Linked DNA regions of Homo sapiens. The protein of the gene in region 1 interacts with the protein of each later gene in a biochemical or structural test. Each region holds a gene or a part of one and is shown on either strand. Other genes may lie near its edges. The genes, in order: XIRP2 and FLNC.

Region 1 (16,647 bases):
TAGACTGGAAGAATGCCTAATAGTTATTCTATAAAATATTTTTGGCAAGTCACTGTACCTTCCTCCACAACCAACCAACAGCAGGTTTTTCACAGTGAGAATATACAGTATTATATTAATAAAAAATTATCAAAAACTGTTGGGGAATACTGATCTATTCCTGAAACTATGCCAAATAGATGTTAACCCTTTCAATGCAAAGAATTCACAGGTGAATCAGTAGAGAACATTCTGCTTTTTACATCAGGACTATATGTTAATGCATTTATTTTAAGCATAGACACTTTGCATTACTTAGAAATTAGTATGAGTGATTCAAATGCCTGAAAATTTACAAATCATTCTTCAAAATTATTTTTAAAATAAAAGCAATTAGGCTGCATCACAAAACAGTTCATGTGGTTCTAAGAGCAGCACAAAAATGTAAGGACTATGAGCTTCGATAAGACAAGAATTACAAATTGTTTATAGAATACTATAAAACAGAGGTTAGCTTGAATTTGTGAGAGGCAATTCAGTGACATAGCAAGGCTGGAATTCAAGTTATGGAAGGGTAAAGAGAAAATGCAAGCAAATAATTATGGACAATCAGCTACATTGCTCTTTCAATAAGCTTATCTTTTTTTTAAGAGAATGAGACATAAAAAGAGGGAAGATCATTAGTAAAATAAGATGTCACTCTATTTTAGATATGCCTAAGATGCCAAGAACACCCTCCTTGGTTGCAACTTGGGGAGGGAGTTTTTTTGCTCTTCATATACAACTTTCATTTTTTTCTTGAGGCCTGTATTTACACATATGCCAACTGTGTTAGGTGCAATAATTGTGAGTTTTGGTAACTATCTTCTGTATCACTTCTGAATGTAGCCACAGTATTTTATAGAATTTATAAAATTTACATTGGAACTATATGTTAATGCACTTATTTATAAATTTATAAAATACTGTGGTTACATTTTATAAATACTGTGGTTACATTCTTTTTATAAATACTGTGGTTACATTCTGAAGTGAAACTGAAGATATCCCAGCTCCAAAAAATGTTCTTGTCAGAATCTTAGACATGTACTTGACTATCCTCTAGAATTTTTAATAAACAAACATCAAAGTGTCATGTATACTCTCAATATTCTTCCCCCTACTAAGATATGGAGCCATTTATAATTTGATTTTAAATGCCCAAACCCCAAAACTTTGTACAACACAATAAGGATATTTATCAGATAATGACTTTCTAATTAAGTATATTGTTTAGGAAAAAAATTAAAATCTCTAATGAACCTACAAAAATAAAAAGAGTAGTTAAGCATAGCCGGAGAGTTTCCAAAAATCTTTTAACTTCTAAAATTAGAAGAAAATAGAATCCTTGCTTTGCTCAACCTACAGCATCAGTTGGATTCAACTGTATGTATTTTTTAAGCCTTATAACAACTTTTTCAATACACATGAGAATGAAAAGAGATTTTTAAAAATATTTCTCTCTTTGATGTCTGGTTTAAAAGACAAGAAAATATCAATAAAGTTTAAAAAACTAAGAATTGCTCAAAACTATAAGGATGCTGGAATACCTAGAAAATATACTAAATAGATTTATTGTATTTAGGCAAAGCTATTTTTAAGAAAAAATTTTAATTTATGTTATTCATTAAAAGATTCAAATAAAAACATGACCCTACAAATAAGCCATTTAAAATATATGTTTTTGACCTTTCACATTCATGGGTCTCTCTAAAATTAATACTATATAATTTAAGAGTTCCTCACCAAACTGTCTTCATGGCTTTGCAATCAGGACCAATAGAGTTGTGTTCTATTCTTGTCTGTCATCTGTTAATTTGTGTTCTAATTGGAAGTCAGTAATTTTTCTCTGAAACTCAGTGTTCTCATTTGAAAAATGGGAAGATAACATGTTTCCTTGAAAAAATTGTTGTGAGAATTTGTCTTAGACTGCCTAGGCTGCCGTAAGAAAATACCACAAACTGGGTGTCTTAAATCACAGAAATTTATTTTCTCACAATTCTGAAGGCTTAAGTCTGAGATCAAAGTGTCAGCTTGGATCAGTTTTTAATAAGGTCTCTCTTCCTGGCTTTCAGTGGTTGCCTTCTTGCTGTGTCCTCACATGGCCTTTCCTCTGTGTGCATGCACTTCCGGTGTCTCTTCCCGTTCTTACAAAGAAACCAGTCCTGTTGAATTAGGGCCCGATTTTGATGACCTCATTTATTCTCAGTTATCTCCTTAAAGGCACTCTTTCCAAGAACAGTCATATTGAGGGGTAGGGCTTCAACCTATGGATTCTAGGGCACACAATTTGGTCCACAACAGTTACTGAATCAGAATCTCTGATAATGGAACTTGGAAATCTACATTTTCAAAAACATCCTGAGAAATTCTTAGGCACACTGAAGTTTGAGATAGAAACTCTACAATTTATAAATGGATTTTGGGGACATATGATTTATATTTTAATGGGCAAAGAAAGTGATGACTTTCTTTCTTTCCCCTGTCCTTTATGGAGTAGCTCCAGTTACCAACAGGAAGAAATATGGTATCATAGAAAAAGTTCAAGATTTTCCGCCGGGTGTGGTGGCTCACGCCTGTAATCCCAGCACTTTGGGAGACCGAGGTGGGTGGATCACTTGAGATCAGGAGTTTGAGACCAGCCTAGCCAACATGGTGAAGCCCCATCTCTACTGAAAATACAAAAATTAGCTGGGCCTGGTGGCAGGCACCTGTAAACCCAGCTACAGCGGAGGCTGAGGCATAAGAATCGCTTGAACCTGGAAGGCAGAGGTTTTAGTGAGCTGAGGTCACGCCACTGCACTCTAGCCTGAGTGACAGAATGAGACTCTGTAAAAAAAAAAAAAAAAAAAAAAAAAGCTCAAGAGTTTGAAGATGTAGGGGGTTCTATCAGAGAAAAATTGCACTCGACAAGTTGAACAGGCAAGAAAGGATTTATTTAAGACATCACTTTAGGGAAGAGAGATTGAAAGCATCTCTGCTGAAACAAAAGTTGGTAGAGTTTTATAGTGGGGTGAACTGGTGGAAAAGTACTGGAGGACATTAGTGGGGAGGTGGTCAGTGTGACTAGGCCATCTGTGTTTACTAATTGACACTTACTGAAGTTGGGCTCTTACCTTCCCATAGAGACTGGGAGATGGGAATGCTATCTTTCTTGATTTTTTTAAAAAATATTTTAATATGACTACATAATAGTTGTATGTTATTTATGGGATACATGTGATGTTTTGACACAAGCCTGCAGTGTGTAATGACTGCATCAGGGTAGGTCCTTGAGAAAACTTTTCTGGGTTATAAAATTGGCAAGAAGCTGGGAGAAGATTCAGAGAGTCAAAAAATTTGCAATCGAAAGTTTTCTAAAGTAGATATTCTAAGGGAGTCAGGGGTCAATAGTAAGAAGTCTGTAAAGTATAGTCAAGCTGCAGAAAATATTAAGGCATTCTTAGCCATTTTGAATACTATCTCTGTCACTAATCCTGTGAACTTGAACGGGTCATTTTCCCTTTATGACCTGGACAATGTGAGATTTTGATTCAGGGCTTCCATTAAAATCACTAATGCTAAAATTCTGTTTCAAAGGCTGTTACTCAGCCATTAGTCACCGTGATTGCCTTACTGATTTTTAAAATATCAAAAATAATTTTGAAATTCTTTGTAAATGTCCTCCTTGTGACTCCGAAACTTTCCCAAGATATAGTCAATGCTTCCAGGATGCTGCTTTAATACTAGGATTATGTCCATCTGATACTAGTTGTTAAATATTCAGAATATCACTCTGGGCTATTGCAATCTACTTAACAGTTAGTTAGAAAGCAATCCTAGTAAAAACATGGCATTAGCAATAAAGACTTCAATAGGACTTCAATATATCTTATTTTCCTAAGAATCTGTACTTGCCACTGCAATTGCTGTATACTCCCAAACAATCTGGTATCAAATGTTTATTTTCCAAATTTTTTTAAAACCTTTTCCCTTATGTTCAGTTAAAGTCAATTGATTTTGGCCCCATGTAAAATATGCAGGAGATCACAAATGAATCAAAATATTAACTGTCTTTTAACATTTCTCAGTCTATTAAAGGAATAGAAATAAGCAATTTATAAAGTGCTGAGAGAATACATGACTAATTCTGGTTGTTGATGGTGAACAGGTTAGAACTATGATGACTAGAAGAATTAAAAGCATTTATATTAGGGTACATTTGTGGATGGTTTGCTTGAATAGAAAAAGAAAATTTAAGAGACCCATTAGAATTTTATTCAAATATTTAAAGATTGTTTGTTCATGTGGAAGAAGGATTAGACTTGTTTTATATGGCCTCAAGGCTTAGAACAGGCTCAAAGGGAAAATTACAGAGATATTTTGGGTTTAATGCAAGAAATATAATTTTTCAAATGAGAGCTTATTCAAAACCCTTGCTTTGGACTTCCACAACTCCTCTGCCAAGCCTTTCAACAATGAATTATAGTCAGAAATTAATTCACTGGAATGTCACACCAAAATATAAGGTCCTGGGGAATAAAAGACTGCATGGGATTTAATTCAATAACTAGTGACTTTTTTCCCAGTTGATTTTGGATCTCATGTGTGTCAAGTTGATGAATTAATAAATACAAGTGAGTCTCTTACAATAATGTGCCAACCCAGTCTGGAGGGCCCATCCACATGTGTATTGTAGGAGAAGTCTAAGCATCTAATAATTGTTGAGACTAGATGATTTAGCACAGCCCAACAGAAATAAGTGTTGTTAAGACGCAATTCCCTAAAAGGTCCTGGTTGACATTCAGTGCATTAGAATCTGAACTTCAGCAACCAGGTAGGTTTACCCAGATCAGATATGTATAACAACACCTGGAGAAAGTTTTTAATTTAAGTCCTAATAAAGATACCAAAGCCTAGCTGAGAATGAATAAACAAATATTCAAGAACAACTACTTGCTATGGATTTATTATGTAGTCAAATATAAATACTATAGTTAGGCTCCAGTATAAACTTGCTGTCTGTGTCTTCATGGGAATGGGCAAAATATCTCACCCCCATCAAATTGAATGGTTGGTGCACTTCTTTATTCTTTAGAGTGGGCCTAGTGCAACTTCTCAAGCCTACTCAGGTGGCAACTAAAAATTAGAGTTGGCACATGAGATGAAAATTATTTTCAAGCTCTTGTCTAAGGAAATACTTTATTGTTGATATAGTGTCTACTACCCTTTCTTTGAAATCTCACTATCTTCATCTGTCTCCCACTGTTACAAGCTTCTAGGATGGGATGATAATGTACTGAAATCAGGTTATTTATCATTATTTCCAAATACTTTGAATATCTGCTAAAGGGATTCCTCAAAATTCACTTTAAAATCAATTATTATTTTTACTAAGTGGTTTATTATTTTAATGCACACACAGATTTCTGGTTTTCTGCTTAGGAACTATACCAATGTTTCTTAAAAATGTCACTCTCTTATTTGTCCATGCTGTTTTCATTTTGTTAAACGAGTCATTTTGTTAAATGAGTCTTTGGAGATGAGAGGGATACATTAACCTTTTCTTGTGGGAAAAACATTTGGACTCAGAAGTAAAAATGGATCCCTCACTGGTCAGAAGCATTGACTCAAAGGCATGCCTCATTTCATGCCATTCATCTTCACTCTCCTGGGCCTCCAAACCCCAAATGTGCCAACAGTAGTCCCATCGCAACATTATGTGGGCATTACAGTTCTACACATCCTTTTCTGTTGGGGATCTTGCTTTTTTAAAAAAACAGAAGTAGCAAAATGATGCTGATTCTTACTTGGTTTCTCATAATTACCGATAATATTTTGTTTAAAATAGTGAGAATCAGCCCTGCCACAACTTGGTCTTGAATGCTCTCATCTTTATATCTAACCAGTCACCTTACATGTTCAATATTCCAGCTGAGTATCACTTCCAGATATGTTCAGCATAGTTATTCAATAGGAGTACTTAATAAAGACAAAATGTCACCCAAACTGTATTTTCTCTCTGTGTTATGTGGAATTTGCCTGACTTTGGTCAGGATATATTTTGTCTATCCAGTTCTCTGTGTCTACTGTTTTTGTCACTCTGTCGTGGAAGGAAATTAAGTTGATTTGACAGGATTTATTTTTCACAGTGCCAAGGAGATTTTACCCAGTAACTCATGATTTTCTAGGTGCTTGAAAATTGATTTTTTGATGATATGTTTCAGTAAGTTTTCAACTAAATACTGATGCTGACAGGTCTGTAATTTCTAAAGTTATCTGTTTTTTAATCTTCCCAGAGTAGAAACAAGAAACACACCAAGATAAGTACTGCATTTAGTCTTTTTAATATAGCAGAATGTCTAAGTCCTTTTTAAGTTCATAGATGTTGAGCTAATTGTTCTTTATTGACTTTGGCAAACTCTTGGAAAAATAATTAAGTCACCAGAATTTGCAGTTCAAAATGTGACCAGTTTATAACATTAGCCTTGTAGTCGAACCTTTATATCACACCCTGTATCGTCTCCAAATACCATATCATAACTGCCCTATATTTTAAGCTTTCAAACAAGATTTCTGAAACCTACAGTTTGAATACTGGCTAAGCACTGCAGTTATTTATATAATTTATGGTCATTTTTATATATGAAAATTCATTGATTAAAGTTGTAAGATTTAATTTATTATATTAAAATGCATTTCTGCTATTGAATTCCTTTATGCAAAAAAATCAACATTGTCTTTAGTAGTATATCACTGAACCCCTTATATATAAAAACCCCAGTTTGGAACAAAGAGCTATTAGATGACCAAATAAGAATCAAATTAGACTCTGCAATTAGAGTCTGCGAAGAGAAAGACTTTACTTATTTGAAATAGTATATAGCTTACTATATGTAAAATAAAATAAAATTATCTCAGAAGCTGTGGTCTCCTATAATTTGTAGAAGATGATAACTGATATCGCTAAGCACTTTTTGGTTGCAAATAACTATACTTAAATACTGCTAATAAAAGCTGACATCCGCTGATCACTTGCTTCATACCAAGCACTATCCTAAGTTCTTTATGAGCGTGATTTCATTTATTTTGTTCATCTCACAACAGTATAGTTAGAACATACTATTATCATCCCAATTTTCAAGTGAGGAAACTAATGTTTGGATATATTAAATAATGCATCTAATGTCATATACTAGTGTTTGAGTAGGAATTTGAAGCCATTTGGTTTGAATCTGGACTCTATGTTCATGATCATTATCCAAAATTCTCAGGTGTCCCAACCCCTCACAAATGACTTTGAATTAAATATTAGGTTTATTTTTATATGTATGGAACCTGACGCACAGTGATAATTAAAGTGTAGCTCAGCCATAGAGTGAGCCATTGGTCACTATGGGTCTTTGGGTTAAAACATACCTTTAAGAATATGTAGGAAAAAAATGATAATAGCTAACTCAGCAGCATTCATTAATTCATCTGCAGCAGATTAACTTGTTCCAAAATAATGAGATAATCTGATTCTGATGGAACATGGAGCAGACAAATTCTTCTAGAACCCGACCTGTTTCTATGTGGGTGTATCCAGGAAGTCAGGATTATTTGGAGAAATCTGGCAGGTCTCTAGGCAGACAAAAGGGAACATCTGGTAGGGACTGGGACATGTAGAAAAAAGGTAAGATTTTCCTAAGAAAAACCACTTCTTTCATAATTTTTTCTACACATACATGCTTCTCTTTGATAGTTTCTGACAGGACACTATTTTGCCTCTCTCTCCCTATTTCTTTTAAGTAATATACATTAAATTAGCATAGAATCACAGCATCATCAACAAATTCAGGCTAGCGCTTAGTGACAGACACTGCTGCTAGAATCTCTAGTTATTCATTTGTTTTTCTAACTAAGAAACAATTTAATCTGGGGCAGCAATGTGCCCAGAGAAAAAATAGTTAATCTCTCAGACTCAAAACACGTAAGTTTGGCTATATATTATATTTTTGGACACTGAAAGATAGTCAGGGACTTCTGGGGAAGAAATTTAACAAAAACAGCATCACCCAAAGAAAGCATCTGGGCAATTCTCCTTTCTTCCTTCGTTCCATTGAGTCAGGTCAGAGAGGACTCGCCAGGGACAAAGCCATGACCCTCAGGGACCCAAGGGCATGAGCCTGCAGCTGACAGCCCCATTCTGAATAAGCATTCAGGCACACAGACCAGGGTGGTTGTTGCAAACCCCTCAGCAGCTGCCTCCTGGCACAACCACCCACTAACATGTGATCTAGCAGACAAATGGAAGCTCTTCTTACCCCACTTCTTAGGCACTCCAACAAGGGTTCTGAATTCTAAAAACAGCAAAAAACATTCAAATTGTTACATATGAAATGCTTTCCTGCACCTTTCTATCTCAGAGATGACAGCTGTCCCTCCTCCACTCTCTCCCCACTCGCCCCCAGACACCTCCCTAAACAATTTCTGTGCCAAGATGAAGAGGATGTCCCAGGCCATGGGGCTTCTGGCCTTGAAGGGCTGCTGCAGTGGAGCCAGGGCACAGGGTAGGTGAGACACAGCAGAGGTTCTGGCCCAGGTCCCTGGCCTCTCCTCCTGCAGGTGGCGTTTATTTATTCAAGGGGAGCAACCATGTTCATTTTCCCAACAATGTGGCACCATATTTTGCTTTCCTCTCCACTTCCTTCTTCCTTGCAGCCTTCTCCCACTGTTTCCAGATGATCACCAGCCAGGCAAGGCCCACCTTGGCTTGCTCTGTCTCTCCTGCTAGTGCATTTTCTCCTTAAAAGCTCCTTTAGCCTGTCCAGATCCACTTGTTTGACCTTTCTGGTTGTCTATCCTACCTGCTTGGGGTTCTTGATGTTGATGAGTCCTTCCATGCCTTTGTGCTTTTGCTGGTAGTCATTTTCTTCATTTTCATTCTCTCATAAGTCTAGATTTCTTCCCCTTTTTGGGGTAAGCCCCATCTCCACCTTCTTCTCCTTGTTATTCTTCTCCATAGCAAGCAATCCTCAAGCAGGTATTGAATTAATGAATGGTGTTGTGTCTTCTCCAGTTCATTAATATTTCTGTTGATGTAGCTAAGTTTTATTTACTTTTTAGTTTTATTTTATTTTATTTTATTTGAGACAGAGTCTTGCTCTGTCACCCAGACTGGAGCATAGTGGTGTGATCTCGGCTCACTGCAACGTCCACCTCCCAGGTTCAAGCGATTCTCCTGCCTCAGCCTCCTGAGTAGCTGGTATTACAGGCACGTGCCACCATGCTGGCTATTTTTTTGTTTTTTAGTAGAGATGGGGTTTCACCGTGTTAGCCAGGATGGTCTCAATCTTCTGACCTCATGATCCTCCCACCTCAGCCTCCCAAACTGCTGGGATTACAGGCATGAGCCACCGTGCCTGGCCCCTAAGTTTTATTTTTTAACTGTGGGTTCATAGGCTTCGGGCATCAGAATCACCTCTTGGTGCTTTCTAAGAAGGCCAGTTCCCAGTTCAAATTCCAGACCTTGAAACTAGCTGAAACTCCCCGAGTGGGCCCTTAAGAATCTGCAGTGCTAAGGACATCTCAGATGATGTTGGTGCACAGAAAAGGTGAGAACCAGAGCATCTGAACAGACTGTAAATCCCTGAAGTCTGGATTTATGTTTTATAATTCTTTGACAGCTCTCAATAGTAAACTCTAAAAGTTTGTTTTTATTTTTATTATTCACACTGAGATTCATATTTGAAATTTCATGAGAGCAAATTTTGCATGCTTCTTTTATTACAGATGTATTCTGTATGTGGGTGTAGCAGAAGCTGATATGACAGATCATCAGCTTTGTCCTAAATAACAGGTATTGTCTGGTACGCAGCCTGCTTGGGATAATCCATGAAATATTTAACAAATTTCTTCTTTTGTTAAATACTAATTACCCATATCCTCCAGACAGTTTTCTGGGACTCTGAGATGGGTCCTTTTACTAAGGATGAGTTTATTTTTCTATAGAATTTGGAAACAAAAGCTGCTTCAATCAGCCTTTAACGAGTAAACTTGTAAGCTGAGTACCTAGCACAAACAGGGGTTATGGTTGAGGGTGCACTTCTCTCTTCCATGACTTACTAAATAATGCAGCTCCCAGAGCTGGCTATGAGAGATTTGGTGTCTTGTAGCTGCTATCTGGCGACGTATGTCCATCATGCTTGATGTTCATTAGTTAGATGAGATCAGTAAGTTAAAGAACTGTTAAATTTGTGTTTTCCTTTAATGGATACGTGACTGTGGTAGCTGAGTCACAGGACAGAAATTTGACAGAAAAAGACATGGCGGTAAGATAAGCTTATTGCAAATATACAACTTCATAAATTCTTCTAATAACTTGTCTTAGCAAGGTGCCTTAGCTGGTTCACTTAATAAATGTGAATGTGGAGATAAAAGAAAGAAAAATAAACAAATGCATTGTTCCTATCTCTTTTTTACATATATGAATTATGCATGCATCCTATTAGTGGGAAATTAAGTAATGTACTATGTTAGCTACATTTTTGGCAGAAAAATTAATTGTTCTGATAAACCTAGCATAGCTGGAGAAGTTAATGTAATTGACAATATATAATAATAAAGCTTTAGTTAAGTTTTTTCCTTAATATTGAAAATGCCATTTCTTTGAATCTCTTAACTAATTTCTTTCACATTCTTATCAGATAGATATTGAGCAACTATCTGCCAAAACTAATTAAAATTTCCCTCCCAGAAAAGATCAATTACTTGCTTTATTTGGAAAAACACTTTCAGTTGTTGTCTTTTGATTTTTTTTCTCTGAAAAAAAAATTGTTGTCTGATAATCTTTCTTAATCACAACAAAAATTCTGAAAGCTTGGTAACAGAAAATGTAACCAAAGCATGAAAATAAGTTAAATTACACTAATATTAGCATTATAAACATAATCCTTGGGATTCTTACCCTTGTCAGAAGGTGCTAGTTTGACATATTTACCTAACCTTAACTTGCTTTCTACAGTTGCAAGACTGAGGATTTCCTTGGCAGAGAATCTGGCTTAGTGACAACATAAATTTGGCAGGTTCTTGGAAACCTTTTGTTTTGTAGTTTGAACCTTCAGCTTGCCGATGCTGATATGCCTCACAATCTTCGTCTGTTCTGTCATCTTATTGGGATCATTAACTACTATTTTGAAGGATGCTAGAATTATATTGCAAAATATTTTCCCCCTTCAGACACATGTTGTAGTTTCCAAAGATGAGAAACCCACTAGAAAAATTTCTATCCAACAATACCTTTTTATTCCATTCTGATGTTTTTTATTCTCAAATTGGCACAGGCTTCATTCTGATTAACAAAAATATTTTAGAATTCTAGTTGGTATTGTACTTGTTGAATTATACCTGAAAAAAATATTTAAAGTCATGTTTAAAGGGCCTCAGAAAATGCTGTGATCTCCAAAGCACACTGGGCCGGAGTATGGTGGGTGTTGGGAAACAGAGCAGGTAGAAATCACAGAAACAATGGGAATGAAAAGAGACATGTGTTGATCTTTCATGAAAAAAGTCAATTGCTTTGTGACTGAAATTATTCTGTGAAACAGCTCTGGCATGCAATCCAGACCCTTTGCAGCCTGCTGTGTTTTCAGAATTTCAAAGCCAACTTTAAAAATTATTGCATAGAGTAAAACAAGGTTAAACACCCTCCTGCAGAGCTTCACCTGCCTGCATCTGAGGAGAGGCTTCCTGTGAATTTCAGTAAAAGGCCTTCCATCCAGGTCCCCACAGCAAATATGTTGAGGCTTCTCAGGTTCCCAGAGCTGAAGTTTGTGTTCTTTTCTGAAATAACCTTTGATGGGTTACTTGACATAGAATGCTACAATTTTGGAGCAATGAAAAATGACATCACTTGCAGTCAGCCTCAGAGATCATTTCATAGAAGATATATATATATATATATAACTTCTATGATATGTTATAATATATGTTTTATATATATATGTATGTGTGTATATATGTATATATGTGTATATATGTATATTTATGTGTATATATGTATATATGTGTATATGTGTATATTTATGTGTGTGTATATACATATATATATATGTATATACACACACACACACACACACACACACAACACCACCAGAGGGAAAAGAGAGGGATCGCATGCTGATTCTAGAGAGGGTTTGCGTGTGCTGTAATTTAAAACAGAGATGACTGCAGTAAACTGACTCTTGGGTTTAAATTACCTTCAGTGGTCATTCTCTGGTAGTGAAAAGTGAGAATATTGGAATTTGATGATATAAATATTAGAGTAACTGGTGGGAAATTTAAAAATATTCCAGAAAAATCCATAATTGTTTTAAAAGGCTTTTTCCTTCTGTGGAAGGAAGAAAACAGTTTAAACCAATGCTGATAAAGATGGCATTTATTTTCTCTTCAAAAATGTAGAAAAGCCAACTGCCTCAATCCCAATACACCAAAAAAATTATTTGCATTTTTAAAAAATACTTTCAGTTCTTGAACATATGCATATATTTTGAAGTCATGCAATACATTCCTTTCTGCGTATCTCTTTACCCAATTTTATATCATATACTGATTTCATTGGTTCTGCATTGTCTTTATATTTACCATTTCACATGGCTACATCATTTCATTGTGTGGCCAGACCATCATTTAGTAAAACATCCCCCTCACTTTGAAGCATTTCCTTTTTTACTATCTATAATGACTATTGAAACTTTGCAAGGCACATTTGCATATATTAAAGAATATTCTTCTATTAAATTATTATTTCTGGGCACATTTTCTTTTTTAGAAATAGAGATCAAAAGTGTCAGTGCCATTGCCAGTCTTGCCATGCTTAAAACTCTTCATTCACTATCATTCTGTAATAATCATAGATTTCTTAGATTTGAACATGTGTTTCAAATTGATACATAACTATGCTTTAAACTTGAAATGCTGTTAGTAGAGAAATGTACCAAAACATGTCCTCAAATACAAGAAACAAGAGTTATGACTTACAAGAAATCTTAGTAAATCAACCATATGAGACTATTTACAAAGCTTGTTTAAAATTAACTTTAGGGATTTTCAGTGGAACAGGGAAGCATTTGGTAGTTTTTCTTCTCCCCAAGACCTAGTCAAAGATAATTTTTCTCTGAGTGGATTGGTATGCTTGACAGGCAAAATTGTGGTCATTCTTTTTGTTTAATGCAATGGGCCACAAACCTAACATTATCATTATAATTAGACATAAACTCAAAGTTACAATAATAGAGGCCGGAGATAATTCTTACAATGACAGAGATCACAAAATATTAGAACACTTTTGTAAACACGCAGTCTTTAATACATGGACAACTTAGCTTTGACCAAGGGTTTCTTTCCTTCCCTTACTTACAAATCCTCTCTCTGAAGACCTCATACTCTTTTATACAAGATAGCAGATCACCTGGCAGGAACGTGAAATAAACTCTTTGGAATCCTAACGTGAATGTCAGCTCCATGTATTTACTAAATCTTGGCAGATTTCCTTTCTTGAGTCCATGTAAGCTATTATTCTCTTTATTAGTGTTTCTCAAAGTATAGATTTCAGGCCACCTTCCTTAAAATCACCTCAGGTACCTATTAAAAATGCACTAATTGAGTTGCTCTTAATATCTACTGAGTTGGAGTGAATCCCAGGGGAGCTATTGCTCCAAGTATTAATTCTAGTATGAGAAGAAAAAATATGTTTATACATATGATGGGTTATAGTGAAAACCTACTTTTTTCAGCATTGTGCCTTTCATTCTAATAATGTTAATTGAGCCCCAATTTTGTGCCAGGCAATGTGTTAGAAGCGAAGGATAAACTACTGAACAAAAACTGGGATGCACCTTGCCAACATAGAATTTTCAAGTTAGGGAACAGACATTAATAAAATAGCTACACAAACAAATGTGTAATTGTAGTTTTGACAATGTGAACAGAGAAGAACATATTTTGAGGGTGCTAAAATAGTGAGCTATATCATCTTTGGTAAGTCAGGAATGCTTCCCTGAGGCAGTCATGCCGTATGCTGAGAACAGAAGGATAAATAACGGATACCAGCAGAACAGGAGAGAGAAGAGTACTTACGCAGAGGGACAGCCTTTGCAAAGGTCCTGTGGCAGGAGAGAAAATAAGAAATGCAAGAGACTAAAAGGACACAGTGATTAAATCCTGGAGAGAGGATGAAGGAGGGGAATCATGGTTGAAAATCTCTGAACTGCCCAAGCCAACTCCTAACAAGGAAAAATGCAGAGTTTACTACTTTAATTAGAAGCAAAACATTTTACGTGCCATATGTGACACTGCAAAACATTTTTATTAAAATGTCCACATTGGTTGTATTATGCCCTGATGCTTCATTTCAGGTCATTGGTTAATCCTGTGGCTTCCATGGCAATTTGCAATTTTTTGTTTCATCCTACCTCAGTCTACCTTGCTACATCTCAGTCTCAATAACTCCACATACTGGTGCTTAACTTAGCAAAGACAACCACCTGATCTAAAGTTGTTTTTGAGGATTGCTCCCCCAGGTGGATAAATAAGGTGGTAGGTGGGTCCCACCATACCCAACAACAGGTCTCTGGATCCATGAACAGAAGTAAATTATATGTAAATCAAAGTTTGCTTTCCTCAATTAGAAAGAAGGGGATGCCATGTCCTGTTGGCAACGTTTGCAGCAGGGTCACTGCCTGCCACCTACGTAGTCCCTTTGGATATTCATTTCAGCTGAATCTTTTTAAAATTAAATGAGTTTTGGAATTGTATTTTAACATACACAGGCGTTACCCTCTGTTCATTCATACCCAGATTCTGACTTAGCATGCAATTCTCTGAATGCTGGGAAAGCCTTCTCATTTTATATACAAATGTTGCAGCTTGTTATGTGGTCTTTAAGAGATGCCAGCTAATTTTTAATAGAATACAAATACCAAAAAATTACTTGTTAAATGTAATAGTGATTAACAGATACTTTTTAAAAACTTGCCAAAGTCATGACTACTACATAGATATACTAAGAAGAAAACAGAGGCTTGCCTTTTACAATTAGTGGATTTTGCTTTATTTCTACATTTATCAAAATGTCTTTAATGGAAGACTGCATCTGTGGATGTTATGAGCAATTTATGCTAAAAGGTTCCCTGGACAAATAAGTTAAGGACAACTTTGAACTACAGTTATATGCCACATAACAACATTTCAGTTAATGGCAGACTGCATATACGGTGGTGGTCCCCTAAGAATATAACGGAGGAAAAACATCCCTATTGCCCAGTATTTACTATACCATGTTTTTATAATTGTTATTTTAGAGCATACTTTTTCTAAAAATATAAAAGATATATGTAAAAGATTGACTGCAAAACAGCCTCAGACAGGGTCTTCAGTGGGTGTTCCAGAAGAAGGCATTATTATCAGTGGAGATGACCGCTCCGTTTCATGTTCATGCCCCTGAAAACCTTCCAGTGGGACAAGATAGTGATATCGGAGGTGAAAGACAGTGATATTGATGATCCTGACCCTGTATAGGCCTAGGCCAATAATGTATATGTCTTAGTTTTTAATAAAAATTTTTAAAAAGTAAAAAAAAAAGAAAAAGTTTATAAAATAAAGATATAAAGAAAAAATTTTCTACAGTTGTACAATGTGTTTAGGATTTTAAGCTAAGTGTTATTAAGAAAGAGTCAAAAAGTTTTAAAAATTAAAAAGTTTATAAAGTAACAAAGCTATAGTAAGTTAAGGTTAATTTGTTATTGAAGAAAGAAAAATCTCTTTTATAAATTTAATGTCACCTATGTATATATAATGTTTATAAAGTCTACAGCAGGAGTGTACAGTAATTTCCTAGGCCTTCACATTTATTCACTGACTAACCCAGAGCAACTTCTAGTCCTGCAAGCTCCATTAATGATAAGTTCCCCATACAGGTATAATACATTTTATCTTTTATACTATATTTTTACTGTACCTTTTCTATGTTTAGATACACAAATACTTACTATTGTGTTATACTGCCTGCAGCATTCAGTACAATAACATGCTGTACAGCTGTTAGCCTAGGAGCAAAGGCTATACCATATTGGCTAGATGTGTAGTAAGCTATACCCTTAAGCTATACCCTCTAGGTTTGTGTAAGTACACTCTGTGATCTTCTCACAATGATGAAATTGACAAACAATACATTGCTCAGAACATTAAGCAACACACTACTGTCCTTGTACTTCTTTCTTTCTGAAAGACTTTTCAAAGCATTTAATAAGGGTGTGCATGTTGTAATTCTCCCAGAATGGGATATCTATTAGGCTTCTTAAACTTATTTTTCCATGTAATTCTTTCTGCACTGTTTCTGAAAAACATTCTGCAAGACTAGCACTCAGTGGCCCTACGGAAGTGTGCCTACTGCCCTGTTGCTGTCATTCCCTGATCAGGGAATATGGGAAGAAGGGTTTCTGTAATCTCATGTCCCATGGCAAAACTGTTGGTAATAGAGGGAATGGTGGCATGCGTCACCATCGACAATACTGAAAACATATCACCGTGACCTACTGTTGGAATTAGAGAGCAGACATCTCATTATGCAAAAGTATTGTAGCAGTCGGGGTCCAATCAGGAAAAAGAAGC
Region 2 (14,420 bases), on another chromosome or scaffold:
CCTGCAGGTGAGGCCAGCTCTCAGGACATGACTGCACAGGTGACCAGCCCATCGGGCAAGGTGGAAGCCGCAGAGATCGTCGAGGGCGAGGACAGCGCCTACAGCGTGCGCTTTGTGCCCCAGGAAATGGGGCCCCATACGGTCGCTGTCAAGTACCGTGGCCAGCACGTGCCCGGCAGCCCCTTTCAGTTCACTGTGGGGCCGCTGGGTGAAGGTGGTGCCCACAAGGTGCGGGCCGGAGGCACAGGGCTGGAGCGAGGTGTGGCCGGCGTGCCAGGTAAGGGGCAGGTGGCCAGGAGTGGGGATGAAGTCAGGGCAGCCAGTGTGAGGGGCGATGATGCTGAAGTCCACTACCTTGCCTGTCCCCAGCCGAGTTCAGCATCTGGACCCGGGAGGCTGGCGCTGGGGGCCTGTCCATTGCTGTGGAGGGTCCTAGCAAAGCGGAGATTGCATTTGAGGATCGCAAAGATGGCTCCTGCGGCGTCTCCTATGTCGTCCAGGAACCAGGTGGGCGTCCACACTGGCAGTGGGGCTGGGCCTGCCTGACCTTCCAGACTGGGTTTCTGCCCACTGGCCAGGCAGGAGATGCTTGGGGCCACAGAACTCCCCTCCCCGGAGCCCCCTGCTCTTCCTCTGCCCCGTCTCCCTCTACCCCACACCCTCAGAAACATGTGTCTGCCTCCAGATCTGAGCGCTGACCACAGAGCCTTTCCTGGGATAAGGCCAGGGTGGGGAGGCTCCCGCCCTGCCAACCTCCATCCCGGAACCTGTGCTGACTGGTCTCTCTCCCCAGGTGACTATGAGGTCTCCATCAAGTTCAATGATGAGCACATCCCAGACAGCCCCTTTGTGGTGCCTGTGGCCTCCCTCTCGGATGACGCTCGCCGTCTCACTGTCACCAGCCTCCAGGTTTGTGCCCAGGGTGGGGGTGGAGGGTTTCTGCTATCTGAGAGATGGGCAGGAGTTGAGGACAGCAGGTCCATGGGGCCAGGGATTTAGCAGTGACCTTGGAAGGGCCAGTTAGGAGTCCCTTCTCATAAGGCACGAGGCAGGGCCCTTGGGGACGGTGGGCTCCCACCCTGGGGGCTTGCCCGTGCACTCAGGCATGCCACGCCTCGTTCTGCCTTTCTCAGGGTGTGTCTGCCTGTCCTACTGCCACCTGCCATTTCTTGTTACAGTTTGTTCCACCTTCTGTTGTAAGAATGCTAGATGACAACATTTATAAGAATGAGAGCATAAAATCTATACAAACTAAGAGTAAACCAGTTTGCACAGAGGGTGTGAGAGGCTCCTCTAAAGGGAATGCCTATGGGCTGCAGAGCCTGGGCTGCATCCTCTTCAGGCCGCTGGGGGCCTGGCTTGCTTTCTCTTGCTGCTGACTTCTAGAGATGTGGTGTGTTCCTTTCATTCTGTCACAGCGGACATGTGCAAGGAAGGCTTTCAGCAAGTCACACTGAAACATGCAAACCAGGGGGCCAGGTGTCCAGGGGACACATTGTAAAGGAGCTTCTGCATAAGGCGCACAGAATGGGCTTCACCCCACCTCCTTCTCCCACGCGCCTCCTGGCTGCCCCTCAGGGTGGTCACATTGGCCCATCCAGAGTCCTTGTGCATCTCCTCCTCCCACTCCTGAACTGGGCTCCCCGATGCAGGCTCCAATCCCTCCCCCAGAGCCCTTCTGTGCTTCTTCTGGTCCTCCCTGTTGGTCCACCTTCTCCAGGAAGCTCTCCCAGGCCAGGCCAGTGAAACTCAGCTTCCTACCTCAGAGCTCTCTGGCACCCCCAGCCCACACAGCCCATCAGGCACTTGCCCTCCGCCCTCAGCCTGCTTCACACAGAGTGGGGCCCTTCCTTCCTCAGCCAGGACAGGGCACATCGTCTGTCATCTCCCACACACCAAGCACAGCTAGGATAGCAGGTGCACACATAGGGTTGCATACCGGACCCTGGCTCCTCCTGCTCCCAGGCTGGGCTGGCAGGCAGGGGCCAGGCTGGGCATGGGGTGGCAGCAGCCTTTGGGCTGGGCTTACAGTGAGCACCGTGTGGGGCTTCAGAGAAGACTGCTCCAGCCCCGGCCTCCCAGGAGTCTGAGCATCCTCCGTGGCCTTTGCAGGAGACGGGGCTCAAGGTGAACCAGCCAGCGTCCTTTGCCGTGCAGCTGAACGGTGCCCGGGGCGTGATTGATGCCCGGGTGCACACACCCTCGGGGGCTGTGGAGGAGTGCTACGTCTCTGAGCTGGACAGTGGTGAGCTGGCCCTGCCCCTGCCAACTCCCTTCCGGGCTGGGGCCTTCTGGGGAGGGGAAGGATGGAGGCTAAGCCACCAACCCTTTATCCACAGACAAGCACACCATCCGCTTCATCCCCCACGAGAATGGCGTCCACTCCATCGATGTCAAGTTCAACGGTGCCCACATCCCTGGAAGTCCCTTCAAGATCCGCGTTGGGGAGCAGAGCCAGGCTGGGGACCCAGGCTTGGTGTCAGCCTACGGTCCTGGGCTCGAGGGAGGCACTACCGGTGAGTGCCTGGAGCTGGGGAACAGGGTGACTTCTGGGGGTGCTTGGCCACTAGTCTGGTGCTGCTTTGCTCCAGAGGTAGGGGCCCTGCTTCCTAAGCCAGGAGTCCCCACAGAGGCTGTCCAGGGAGCTGGGGCCCAGTCCCTCTTGGGCCACAAGCCCTTCCTGCCCTCAGCCTTGCTACCTCTGGCCCCCAGGTGTGTCATCAGAGTTCATCGTGAACACCCTGAATGCCGGCTCGGGGGCCTTGTCTGTCACCATTGATGGCCCCTCCAAGGTGCAGCTGGACTGTCGGGAGTGTCCTGAGGGCCATGTGGTCACTTATACTCCCATGGCCCCTGGCAACTACCTCATTGCCATCAAGTACGGTGGCCCCCAGCACATCGTGGGCAGCCCCTTCAAGGCCAAGGTCACTGGTGAGTGCCAGTTTGGGGGAGGTCCACCCAGCCTGCAGCCCAGCCCAGCCTGGAGGGCTCCGGTGGCCACGCACATCTAGGCCATAGTCTGCCCCCAGACATCATGGTCAGTTTACCAGGGCTAGAGGTGGGCCTGGCTCTACACAGTACACGTTCTGTGGAGTCGGGCATGATCACGTAAAAATGCCATTCTTCCTCTCCATCGTGGCCCCTCACTCCTTCAGCTCTGGCCTGCGCTGGCTCCTCAGGCTCTAGCACCACTTTCTTCCCTCCTGGCTTCCCATATTCCTCCGCTCCAAGAAGACACAGTCGGTATTGAGCAAGCTTCCCCTCTTGAGGCTGTCTGTAGGATGAGTTGGGTGGGTGTTCCTTTGTAAAGTGGCTCTTACCCTGTGAGTTAGCCTGAGTTCCCAGACAAAGCCTGCAAGGATGAGGGACGCAGCATCTGAGGCCCCAGCCCTAGGGTGGAGCACCAGTTGGAGCTGGCAGCTCAGGGCCCTGGCTGGGAATGAGGCTGTGCTCCTAGAGTGGCCCTTGGAGGAATTTGAGGGGGAGCCTCAAATGCAGGCAGTGAGTCCCACAGGGTGGCAGTGCTGGCCGAGGGTCCCCTGCCTGGGGAAGAACAGGAAGCCCTTCTGACTAGGTTTGTGCCCCCTCCACCCACCCCTCAGGTCCGAGGCTGTCCGGAGGCCACAGCCTTCACGAAACATCCACGGTTCTGGTGGAGACTGTGACCAAGTCCTCCTCAAGCCGGGGCTCCAGCTACAGCTCCATCCCCAAGTTCTCCTCAGATGCCAGCAAGGTGGTGACTCGGGGCCCTGGGCTGTCCCAGGCCTTCGTGGGCCAGAAGAACTCCTTCACCGTGGACTGCAGCAAAGCAGGCAGGTGGCGGGGGGAGGGCGTCTCCCGGGGTGTGAGCAAGAAGCCGTCAGGGAGCAGGGTGTGGGTCACAGTAGGGGACTCCCTGGTGTGAGCCTGTCCCTCTGCCTCCCTCTCCAGGCACCAACATGATGATGGTGGGCGTGCACGGCCCCAAGACCCCCTGTGAGGAGGTGTACGTGAAGCACATGGGGAACCGGGTGTACAATGTCACCTACACTGTCAAGGAGAAAGGGGACTACATCCTCATTGTCAAGTGGGGTGACGAAAGTGTCCCTGGAAGCCCCTTCAAAGTCAAGGTCCCTTGAATCCCAAAAGTGCCTCCCCAGCCTCAGCCCCCACCTCCAGCCACACACACATTACACACACACACACACACACACAAATGTGCCACACCCAGACACGCACAGAATCAGACACTACAAACACCTGCCTTGGGGGTGAAGTGAAGGCCCAGCCTCCCCACCCCACCGCGCCCCAGGGGTTGGAGGACCTTGTCTGTGTCAGGACAGTGTCCCTCCCTGGGAATGTGACATGAGGGCCGACTGGGGCCAGGCTCAGGGGCAGAGGCTGGGACACAAGGGGCTGGCGAGGGCTGCGAGGCCAGGGAAGCCCTGAGTTTCTGGCGGGGCTGAGCAGTGGGGGAGCATTGTGTTGTGGGTGTCTGTGTGTGAGGTCACCCTCAAACTGCACCGCCGGCCAGATACCCTCCTGACCCCGAGGACTTGGTCTGGTCTCTCTGGTGGCTACAACCCCAGAGTTTTAAGGACTTGGAAAGGAAAGCACAATCAGAGAAGAAAACAGCCCCCGAACCAGCAGGAGTGGCCTGGCACATGGACCGGCCTGAGCGATGTGCACTCCACCCAAGCCAGGCTCCCAGGGGGCCTGATTTCTCTCTCACTGTCTCTTTTTTTAAAATGGTTGCACGGCTCTGCCCCATGGGGGGCCTTTTTTACACACTGCGAGGCCCAGCTTTCTAGGGGACTTTTGCACATGTCATGCAGCTCAGCTGGGAGCTGCTTAGGTGGAAAACTCCAAATAAAGTGCGGCTGTCGCAGAGGGTTGGCTGTTCCTTGGGGGTGTGCTCTGTGTGGCTGGCTGCCCTCTGGCCTGCCACACGAAAAACCGGGCCCTGGGGAGGCAGAGGCGGCCTGGCTGTTCCCTGGAAGATTGACCCAGTCGAGGGAAAGGTCCTGGGGCAGAAGTGAGGTCTGGGATGTTGGCAGAGTGCTTGAAAGAACCGGGGGTGGGGGCTCGGGGATGTGGGAAGGGGTCCCAGCGGGAGGGTTCGTGGACAGTACAGGGTGTGGATACTGTGTTCTACAGTACTGTCCCAGGACCCCTGGGAGGCCAGTTTCAGTTCAGCTTGACCTCAAGGATGTTTTTCAAATTAAGACTTTAAAACAGTGAGCACTGACTCAAACAGGAATATTCCTCAACCAGCAGGCAGGCAGAACCACCTGCAGACTCAGCACCTTCCCCCTAGTCAGTTCCTGAATCAACTTGGCCTGTTTCATGCCCCTTTCCAGCACTAAGCTTGCACAGGGCCTCCCTCCTGAACTCCTGCAACAGCCCTGCCCTGGCCAGCTCCCTCCAACCTCCCCTCCATGCTGCAGCTTGGCGGGGGGGTCACTTTAAAGATAGTATATGCCCCTCTCTGGTTTAGGGCCATCTGTGACTCCCTCCTGCTCCAGAGTAAAGTCTCCTCTTCCTGACAAGGTCTCCAGGGCCACCCAGGTTCAGACAGCAGCCTCCCCAGCCATATGAGTTGGGCAGCAGGCCCACTCTCCATTGTGCCCTCCACCTCCAACCCCCCTTCATTACCTCTGGGCACCCATGCTGTAATTTGGGCCCTTGCCCGGAAACACCTTTGCCTCCCCACCCTCTTCATCTTCCTGGCCAACAGGAAGTTTTCCTGGACCCCTCCCTACCCCTCCTGGATCAGTGCCCCCAGCTCCCAAACTGCCCTGGGACACATCTCTAGTTGCAGTTACGACCCTGAGCTGTGGCCATGTATCCACGGCTCCCCACCAGATGGAGCTCCCTGGCCCTGGGTGTGAATGAGTGAGTGAATGGGTATGAATGAATAAATGAGCAGCTGAGTAGCTGCAGCAGGGAAAAGAAGTCTTTCATTCAACTGATCCCACAATCTAGACCCACCTGGGCATTTCAGCACATGGTGGTGGGCTTGGCAGAAAAACCCACGAGTCCCCAACTCCTAATCCCTGACCTCCCCACCTCTCTCACCAGGCTCTGTGCTTCCTCCCTCTTCCCTCACACCCTCCCACACACCCATCCTCACTCTCTGCCCCCCTCACCCTCACCCTCACCCCTAGATGTGCTAATTTCCCCCTCAGCTTCGGCTGCCTCCACCTGTGTGTGGCTGATAAGCTCACAGACCTCCAGCCTGCCTGCTTCCAGCCAGCCACAGTGTGGCCCTGGGTGCTGAGCCTTACAGGCCCTTCCTCATTAATCCTCATAACAGCCCTATGAGGTGGGGCTACTACCATCTGAAGAAACCAAGGCCCTGGGAATTTCAGTGATGAGTCTGAAACCGTACCTTTAAGTAGTGGGGCACAGATTGAAACCCAGGTGTGCCCGAATCCCAAGCTTATCACACATACAATCGCTAGACCAGACCACGGGCACGTCTCAAGCACTCCAAACTCACAAACCCCATGCCAGACACCGGGAGTGCTGATTTGTTAAAAGGGAGGAGGAAAGAGTGGCTCCTTCCCCTTCAGCCTGCTCATCTTACAGAGGTCACTTTCTTGGCAATGTTACTCCCATCCATGTGCTGCACAGGCCAGAAACCTGGAAATCACCCAGGTCTCTCTCTCTACCTCACTCCCCAAACACATCCACTCTGAAACCAGTTTTGTCCTAAATATCTAAATATCTCTCGGCTCTACCTACTTCTCTGCGTTTCCCATTATCACCACCTGAGTCCTGGCCACCATTATCTCTCACAGTGGCCTCCCAATTTGGTTTCTCCTCCCTCAGTTTCGCCTCTGCACACAGCACAGTCAACAGTGAGTGACAGCTCTAAAACGTAAGTTTGGCGATAGCACTCTCTTACTTGAAATCCCTCAGCAGCTTCAGGATAACTGTCCTCAGGATAACTTCCAGATCTTTTTTTTTTTTTTTTTTTTTTTTTAGACAGAGTCTCACTCTGTCACCTAGGCTGGAGTGCAGTGGCGCCATCTCAGCTCACTGCAACCTCCCTTGCCCGGGTTCAAGCAATTGTCCTGCCTCAGCCTCCCGAGTAGCTGGGACTACAGGCACACACCACCTCACTGGGCTAATTTTTTTTGTATTTTTAGTGGAGATGGGATTTCACCATGTTGGCCAGACTGGTCTCAAACTCCTGACTTCAGGTGATCTACCCGCCTCAGCCTCCCAAAGTGCTGGGATTACAGGCGTGAGCCACCGCGCCCAGCCTGCAGATCCTTTTTTTTTTTTTTTAGACAGGGTCTCGCTCTGCTGCTCAGGTTTAAGTGCAGTGCCGTGATCATAGCTCACTGTAACCTTGAACTCCTGAGTAAGCCCTGCTGCCTCAGCTTCTCGAGTACCTGGAACTATAAGTGTGCACCACCACGCCTGGCTAATTTTTTTTTTTTTTTTTTTTTTTTTTTTTTGAGACAGAGTCTCGCTCTGTCACCCAGGCTGGAGTGCAATGGCACAATCTCGGCTCACTGCAACCTCCGCTTCCCGGGTTGAAGCAATTCTCCTGCCTCAGCCTCTCGAGTAGCTGGGACTACAGGCGCCCACAACCACGCCCGGCTAATTTTTTGTGTTTTTAGTAGAGACGGGTTTTCGCCATGTTGGCCAGGCTGGTCTCAAACTCCTGACCTCAGGTGATCCACCTGCCTCAGCCTCCCAAAGTGCTGGGATTACAGGTGTGGCGTGAGCCACCATGCCTGGCCTTACCAATTATTTAACTTTCCTTGAAGGCCCTACGCTCTCTAGTCAGTACGCCTTTGCACATGCTGTTCCTCTGCCTAGAACACCGTCTTGTCCTCACTTCTATCCCCTTCATCCTGCAGGTCCTTCAGGTCTCAGCTTAGATCTGAAGCAAGCTTCTTGGGGAAGGGTTCTTTGGACGCCCCCTCTCTCCATGGGTTAGTTACCATGGATGTGTGCTTCCATATACTTTTCACATTCTAACCATTAACACACAGCTTTGTAGTCGCCTGTTCCCTTGACTTTCCACCTCACTAGGCAGTATCATCATTAACTTTTGCATTCCTTTAACTGAACAAACGTGTGTTACTTGTTAACTATGTGTCATAGTTACACACATACATACACGATAAAGACCCAGACCCTGCCCTTGAGATGAGTAACTGCGTCTCTTCTCTGGGGTCTCGGCGTCTAACAGCGTCAGGTCCAAAGCGCTTGTTGAACGAATGAACCAAGGAACGAGTGAATGAACGAATGAATGCCCGCGAAGGACGTGGTGCCGCGCGGTCTTCTGGGAATCGTAGTCCCCTGGTTCGGGCCTGTCTTTACGGCGCAGGCGTATTCACATGGAGGCCGTGTTGCTGTTAATGCGCATGTCCCGGAATGCGGCTGGGAGGACTGCGCATGCTCGAAGGGTGGGGGTTGAGGCCGACGGGGCGCCGTACGGCGGAGGCGGGGTTTCAGTGGCTTCTGGTGCTCTAGGGTGAGCTCTGCCCGGCTGCAGGGATGGCGGGGAGGGGTAAGCTCATCGCAGTGATCGGAGACGAGGACACGGTGACTGGTTTCCTGCTGGGCGGCATAGGGGAGCTTAACAAGAACCGCCATCCCAATTTCCTGGTGGTGGAGAAGGATACAACCATCAATGAGATCGAAGACACTTTCCGGTACGGTACCGCGCGAGGCCTGAACGGGCCCTTCTGCTGCTCGGTGGAGTGCGGGGCGAGGCTGGAGGCTGCCCGGACGGGGGTGAGGGGACGATCCTGAAAGTCCTTCCGCCCTTCCGGAGCGGAGGCCTCCGCGCCCCAAGTCCCCGTTTGGGGCTCGGTGGGACAGAAGCTGTATCAGGTCCACGAGCCCCCCCACCTCACATGATCGTGTGTCATGAAAGAAGGGGAACAGAGCTCGTGACAGCCTAGACAGTGGGCTTGGACTTTGTTCTGCTTTCTCCTCCTTTAGAGGCTCACCATCGTCCCGTAAGGCAGGGATGATTTTTGTCCTACTCACAGGTGAGAAAACTAAAGCTCGGAGAGGGTAAGGCACACACTAAAGTTACGAGTCGGCAGAGGCAGAGCTAGAATTTGAACCCAATCTCAACCCTTTCTGCCTCCGGTAAGCCAGGTACACACTCTTGGCAGGTCTCCTCAGGCGGCCTCGGAATTTCCTTGTAGTCTTGAGCACAGTAGGCAGAAATGTCGGGACTGTGAGAGCCTTCTGCTAAGACCTTGCACTCAAGCCCTCACTGCCTGCCTTAGGTCAGAGTGTGGGTGCAGGCATGCTTTTAATCCACCAGGGGTCCTGGTGACTGGAATTAAGGATACCAGCCTCCTATTTTATTCCTCACCCCTTCTCCAGGGCCCCTGTACCAAGTCTCAGGAATAAACCACTCACCTGTTTCCCCCAAACAGTCCAGCCCAGGGCTGCTGGCTGAGACTGGTTCCTGCTGCCTGGTGTATTAGGTAGTCCCTGACCTGGGAGGCTGTTATCTGCCATTCTCTAAGCTGTCTGGTAAAGTGACCCAAGTTATCATGGGAGAAGGACAAATTTTACTTCAAGAATTTTTTATGTTTCCAACCAAAAGGGACCTCAGAGATCAAATCTAACCCAGTGACTGGCAGGGGGTGGGTGCTCAGTAAGTAATTTTTAATCAGTAAATAAACGAATGAGTCTGGGTGCAGTGGCTCACGCCTGTAATCCCAACAGTTTTGGAGGCCGAGGCGGGTGGATCACCTGAGCTCGGGAGTTTGAGACTAGCCTGACCAATATGGTGAAACCCCATTTCTACTAAAAATACAAAAATTAGCCAGGCGTGGTGGCGGGTGCCTGTAATCCCAAGAAATCAGGAGGCTGAGGAAGGAGAATTGTTTGAACCTGGGAGGTGGAGACTGCAGTGAGCCGAGATCCACCACTGCACTCCAGCCTGGGTGACAGAGGGAGACCCTGTCTCAAAAAAATAAAAATAAAATAAACAAATGAATGGGTGGGTGACCACAGGAGAGAAGGAGCACAAGGCCAGGTTCTTTTTGTGCAGAAAGTGTGATTCCTTCATCAAGGTGTCCTCTTCCTAGCTTGTGATCTTAGTTCATGCCAAACTTTCCCTCTGACCCCTCCACCACCCTCATCAGGATAGACCTTGAGGCCTTCAGTGGTCTCATCAGCCCTATTTTTAAATAATTTGTTTTCTTTTTAAAAGTTAATGTGTCTTTTTTTTTTTTTTTTTCTGAGACAGGGTCTCACTCCTGTCACCCAGGCTGGATTGCAGTGGCGTGATCGCAGCTCACTGCGGCCTCGACTTCCCAGGCTCAAGTGATTCTCCCACCTCAGCTTCCTAAATAGCTAGGACTACAGCTTCCCAAGTAGCTGGCACATGCCGCCACATCCAGCCATTTTTTTTTTGTGTGTATATATATAGATAGATAGATAGATCCGCCACATCCAGCCATTTTTTTGTGTGTGTATATATAGATAGAGAGAGAGAGAGAGAGAGAGGGAGATGGGGGTCTCACTATGTGGCCCATTCTGGTCTCAAACTCCTGGGTTCAAGCAATCCACCTGCCTCGGCCTCCCAAAGTGCTGGGATTACAGGCGTGAGCCATCACAGCTGGCCTTCAGTATCTGCACATAAAAAGGGATCTGCATACATATAATCTTATCCTTCCCCTTTCTGACACATCACTGCATATTGAATACACCAGTGTGCACCCTAATCAATCTTCATTACCAGTTCACTTGGAAGCCTTCCGGGCAGTGTTGTAGAAGCCAACCCTAATCAGCGTGACCCTCCGCTTTGGGATGAAATTGATTCTAGGTAGGGTTGACAGAGGGTTGAGCGTGGCAGCCTTTCCCCTTGTCCTCTGTGCCCTCTGGGTCATGCTCATTCCCCTCCACAGCCCAGCCCAACAACTCGGAGAGGGCTGCCTGGGTAGGAGAGACGGCAGCCCCCAGAGCTGTCCTGGACTCCCTTCTCATCTCTCCCCACAGGCAATTTCTAAACCGGGATGACATTGGCATCATCCTCATCAACCAGTACATCGCAGAGATGGTGCGGCATGCCCTGGACGCCCACCAGCAGTCCATCCCCGCTGTCCTGGAGATCCCCTCCAAGGAGCACCCATATGACGCCGCCAAGGACTCCATCCTGCGCAGGGCCAGGGGCATGTTCACTGCCGAAGACCTGCGCTAGGGGACTCCTCATAGCCCTCAGCCCTTCCCTCGTTTCCAGGCCTCTCCCCAGGCTTGCCATCAGCCTTCTTTACTTTTTGAGCCTCTGATTTCCAATTCCCTGCTCCTTCCCACTCCATTAAGAGGCTAGGTGAGGCGCTTCTAGGTTGCTGGGGCTCTGCTGGTTAAGGAACAGGAAGCCTGACCATCTCCCTCCACTACCTCTTCCCTGTGCTGTTACACAGTGTCATTGTTGATGTTAAATTAAAGTCATATTCTTGCTTCTCTCCAGATGGGTTGGGTGCTGGAAAGGACATGTGTGGGGTGAGGCCATGGGGCAGATTCGGTTGGCAAGGATGGAAAAGGTGCTGCCAAAGACAGGCATAGAAGAGGTGGCCCAGGAGGATTGTGCCGGGAGGCAGAACTCAAGGACTGGTCCTTGGATCAGAGAAGACCAGCTCTGGTCTGGGGAGGAATGGGAGGAGGCTTGAGCCCAGCTCCTGCTTCCCCCACCTTGCTCGGCATTGGGCTGGGAAGGGGGCCAGATCCAAAGGACAGAAGCAGAAAGCACACGAAACCTGGGAGTCTGTGATGCCAGATCCCGCGAGGGCCCTGCGGGAGTTTTGGGGGGAGCAGGGCTCTTAACCAGTGGGCCCTGGCCTCAGGCTGCCTCAGGAAGCCAGGCTCATGGGGTCTGCTGGGGGCATGGCAAGTAGAACCCTGGCCCTGTGTGAGGTGAGGCATGGTTGCCAGGTGACTGTGCCTGGGCAGCCACTCGCCGTCAGAAGCACTCTGCTTGCTGTGCTCACCCCTCAGCTGTGGCCACCCTGGTGCCACTCCTTCCCTGGCCACCATGTCACGGCAGCTCAACATAGACGCGTTACGGCAGAACTTCTGGAAGGAGGAATATCTGAGGGAAAAGATGTTGCGCTGTGAATGGTACCGCAAGTATGGGTCGATGGTGAAGGCCAAGCAGAAGGCTAAGGCTGCAGCCCGCCTGCCCCTCAAACTGCCCACCCTGCACCCCAAAGCCCCACTCTCACCCCCACCCGCCCCCAAGTCAGCCCCTTCCAAGGTGCCCAGCCCTGTCCCAGAGGCGCCTTTTCAGTCGGAAATGTACCCGGTACCACCTATCACCCGAGCCCTGCTGTATGAAGGCATCTCCCACGACTTCCAGGGGCGGTACCGCTACCTCAACACTCGAAAACTGGACATGCCAGAGACGCGATACCTCTTCCCCATCACCACCAGCTTCACGTATGGCTGGCAGCTGGGTGAGCCCAACCTCTTGGAAATCACCTCAAAAACAGAGCACTAGCCATGTGCTAGGGAGTGGGCATCCTGGTGAAGGGTCCAGACTATAAACAGAGCAAGGAGATGGCCAAGAAGTGTCGACACGTTCCACAGAACTAGGGAGTGGCGGTGGGCAGGGAGGCAGCGGCCACGTGCTGCTATTTATTGGATTGTCAGGAAAGGCCTTTCTGAGGACCCGAGGCTGAGAGCCAGATGATAAGGATGGGTTTGGATTTTATTTGTTGTGCAGGGAAGCTGATGGAGGGTTCTAAGCAGATTTCAAGAGTGACACTGGTGAACCTTTTAAAAAGTCACCCTGACCTGTATGTAGGCAGTGGCTTTTTCAGGGGAAATGGTAGAATCTGGCACATGAGTTGGGCATCTGTTTGGTTATCCTGTGGTAGTGGCCTGAGGGATCAGCAATAGAGCTGAAATCAATTCAGGATGTTTTGGGGGAAGACTCGGTGGAACTCACCCATGGATAGAATGTGAGAATAAGGGGAAGAGAGATCAATCACCCAGGTGTTTGTTTAGCTAAAGCTGCAGTGACAGGGAAGACTGGGAGAGGTCAGGGCTGGAGCGTGCATGAACAGGTCCTATTTAGCCATGTGTGTTTGGCTATGTTATGCTTGAAGTGTCTGTAGGGTGGCTGTGTCTATAAGTCTGGATTGAAGTCAGAGCTGAAGATGCAAATTCGGAGGTCATTGGAATATAGGTGCTTTTTTTTTTTCTTTTTCTTTTTGAAACAGTCTGACTCTGTCACCCAGGCTGGAATGCAGTGGCACGATCTTGGCTCACTGCAACCTCTGCCTCCCAGGTTCAAGAGATTCTTCTGCCTCAGCCTCCCGAGTAGCTGGGACTGCAGGCGTGTGTCACCACGCCCAGCTAATTTTTGTTTTTTTAGTAGAGACAGGGTTTCACCATATTGGCCAGGCTGGTCTCGAACTGCTGACCTCGTAATCTGCCTGTCTCGGCCTCCCAAAGTTCTGGGATTACAGGCATGAGCCACCGGCTGGCCTATAGGTGCTATTTAAATCCATGAGATCTCCTAGGGAGCTCAAGTTGCTGGAATCTGATGGGAGTGGGGGCAGGAGGGCTGAGCCAGAGCGGGTAGGGGATGTCATTGGCAGGAAGCCTGTCCATCTCGGCTGAGTCTTTTTTCTGTGAGGTTGAGTCAAGGCCATCAGCGGGGAGGGAGCTGAGCTGAGGCAGTGGAGTAACTAGAGATGAAGAGGAAAGGTGTGGAACAGGCATGTGCCAGGCAGGGCTGCTGGGCGATGTTGCTGCACGTCCCATTGCTGTCTGTGCTCATGAATGTCAAGTGAGACTCCTCAGCCCTGTACCCTTCTCCAGCTGCTTGAGTGTCTTGCAGAAAAGGTGGATGGTTGGGGATTGACTCAGTTGAGATTTTGCCCCCAAACATCCCTTTCCCCCAGGCCCCTAAAGGGGAAGTCAGGGAAATAACTTTCTAACAAAAGCAGGAGGCGAGCCCTAGAAGCGGGGAGCAGGAGGCCGAAGGAAATCTCATCTCTCCACAGTCTGTCCCTGTGACAAGCAGGCTAGGGTGGCCCCCCTCCCTGCAGGTAGAGGATCCTGAAGCTAGGGTAATGATGGCAGATGGCTGCTGTATCCTGGCATCCAGCCAGCTCCCAGTATTTGCCCATAGCTCCCATTCCTCCAAAGCACTTTCTATTTCTTCCCACAAAGTGGCTACTCCACTGACGGATTCCTAGGGCTGTGCAGACAGACAGGGCTCCCATGCTCTGCGTGTCCCTCCCTCAGGAACCCATGCTTGGCCTCTGACATCTTTTCCCAGGCCCCCCAGTGAAGCAAGAACTGGTCTCCTGCAAGATGTGCCGCATTGAGTCATTCTTCCGCAAGAACGGGGCCTTCGCACTGCTTGATCCCCGAGACCTGGCCCTCTGACCGTGGGCCAGGTGTGGGCTTAGGGGAGGGAAGAAGAAATAACAGGCCTC

The links.
Region 2: the proteins of XIRP2 (region 1) and FLNC form a complex in vitro, tested with the Homo sapiens proteins (one study listed by BioGRID).

What each region holds. Positions count from the first base shown.
Region 1 is NC_000002.12:166,880,886-166,897,532, forward strand, and holds the start of XIRP2 (xin actin-binding repeat-containing protein 2), read left to right. Parts: upstream 1-7,594; 5' UTR 7,595-7,672; intron 7,673-16,647.
Region 2 is NC_000007.14:128,854,406-128,868,825, forward strand, and holds the end of FLNC (filamin-C), read left to right. Parts: intron 1-7; coding exon 8-277; intron 278-369; coding exon 370-507; intron 508-793; coding exon 794-909; intron 910-2,112; coding exon 2,113-2,245; intron 2,246-2,339; coding exon 2,340-2,516; intron 2,517-2,712; coding exon 2,713-2,931; intron 2,932-3,602; coding exon 3,603-3,812; intron 3,813-3,930; coding exon 3,931-4,118; 3' UTR 4,119-4,867; downstream 4,868-14,420. Other genes in the region: ATP6V1F (V-type proton ATPase subunit F), read left to right, coding at 8,500-8,657, 10,715-10,798, 10,972-11,173; protein SPMIP1, read left to right, coding at 12,005-12,425, 14,261-14,370.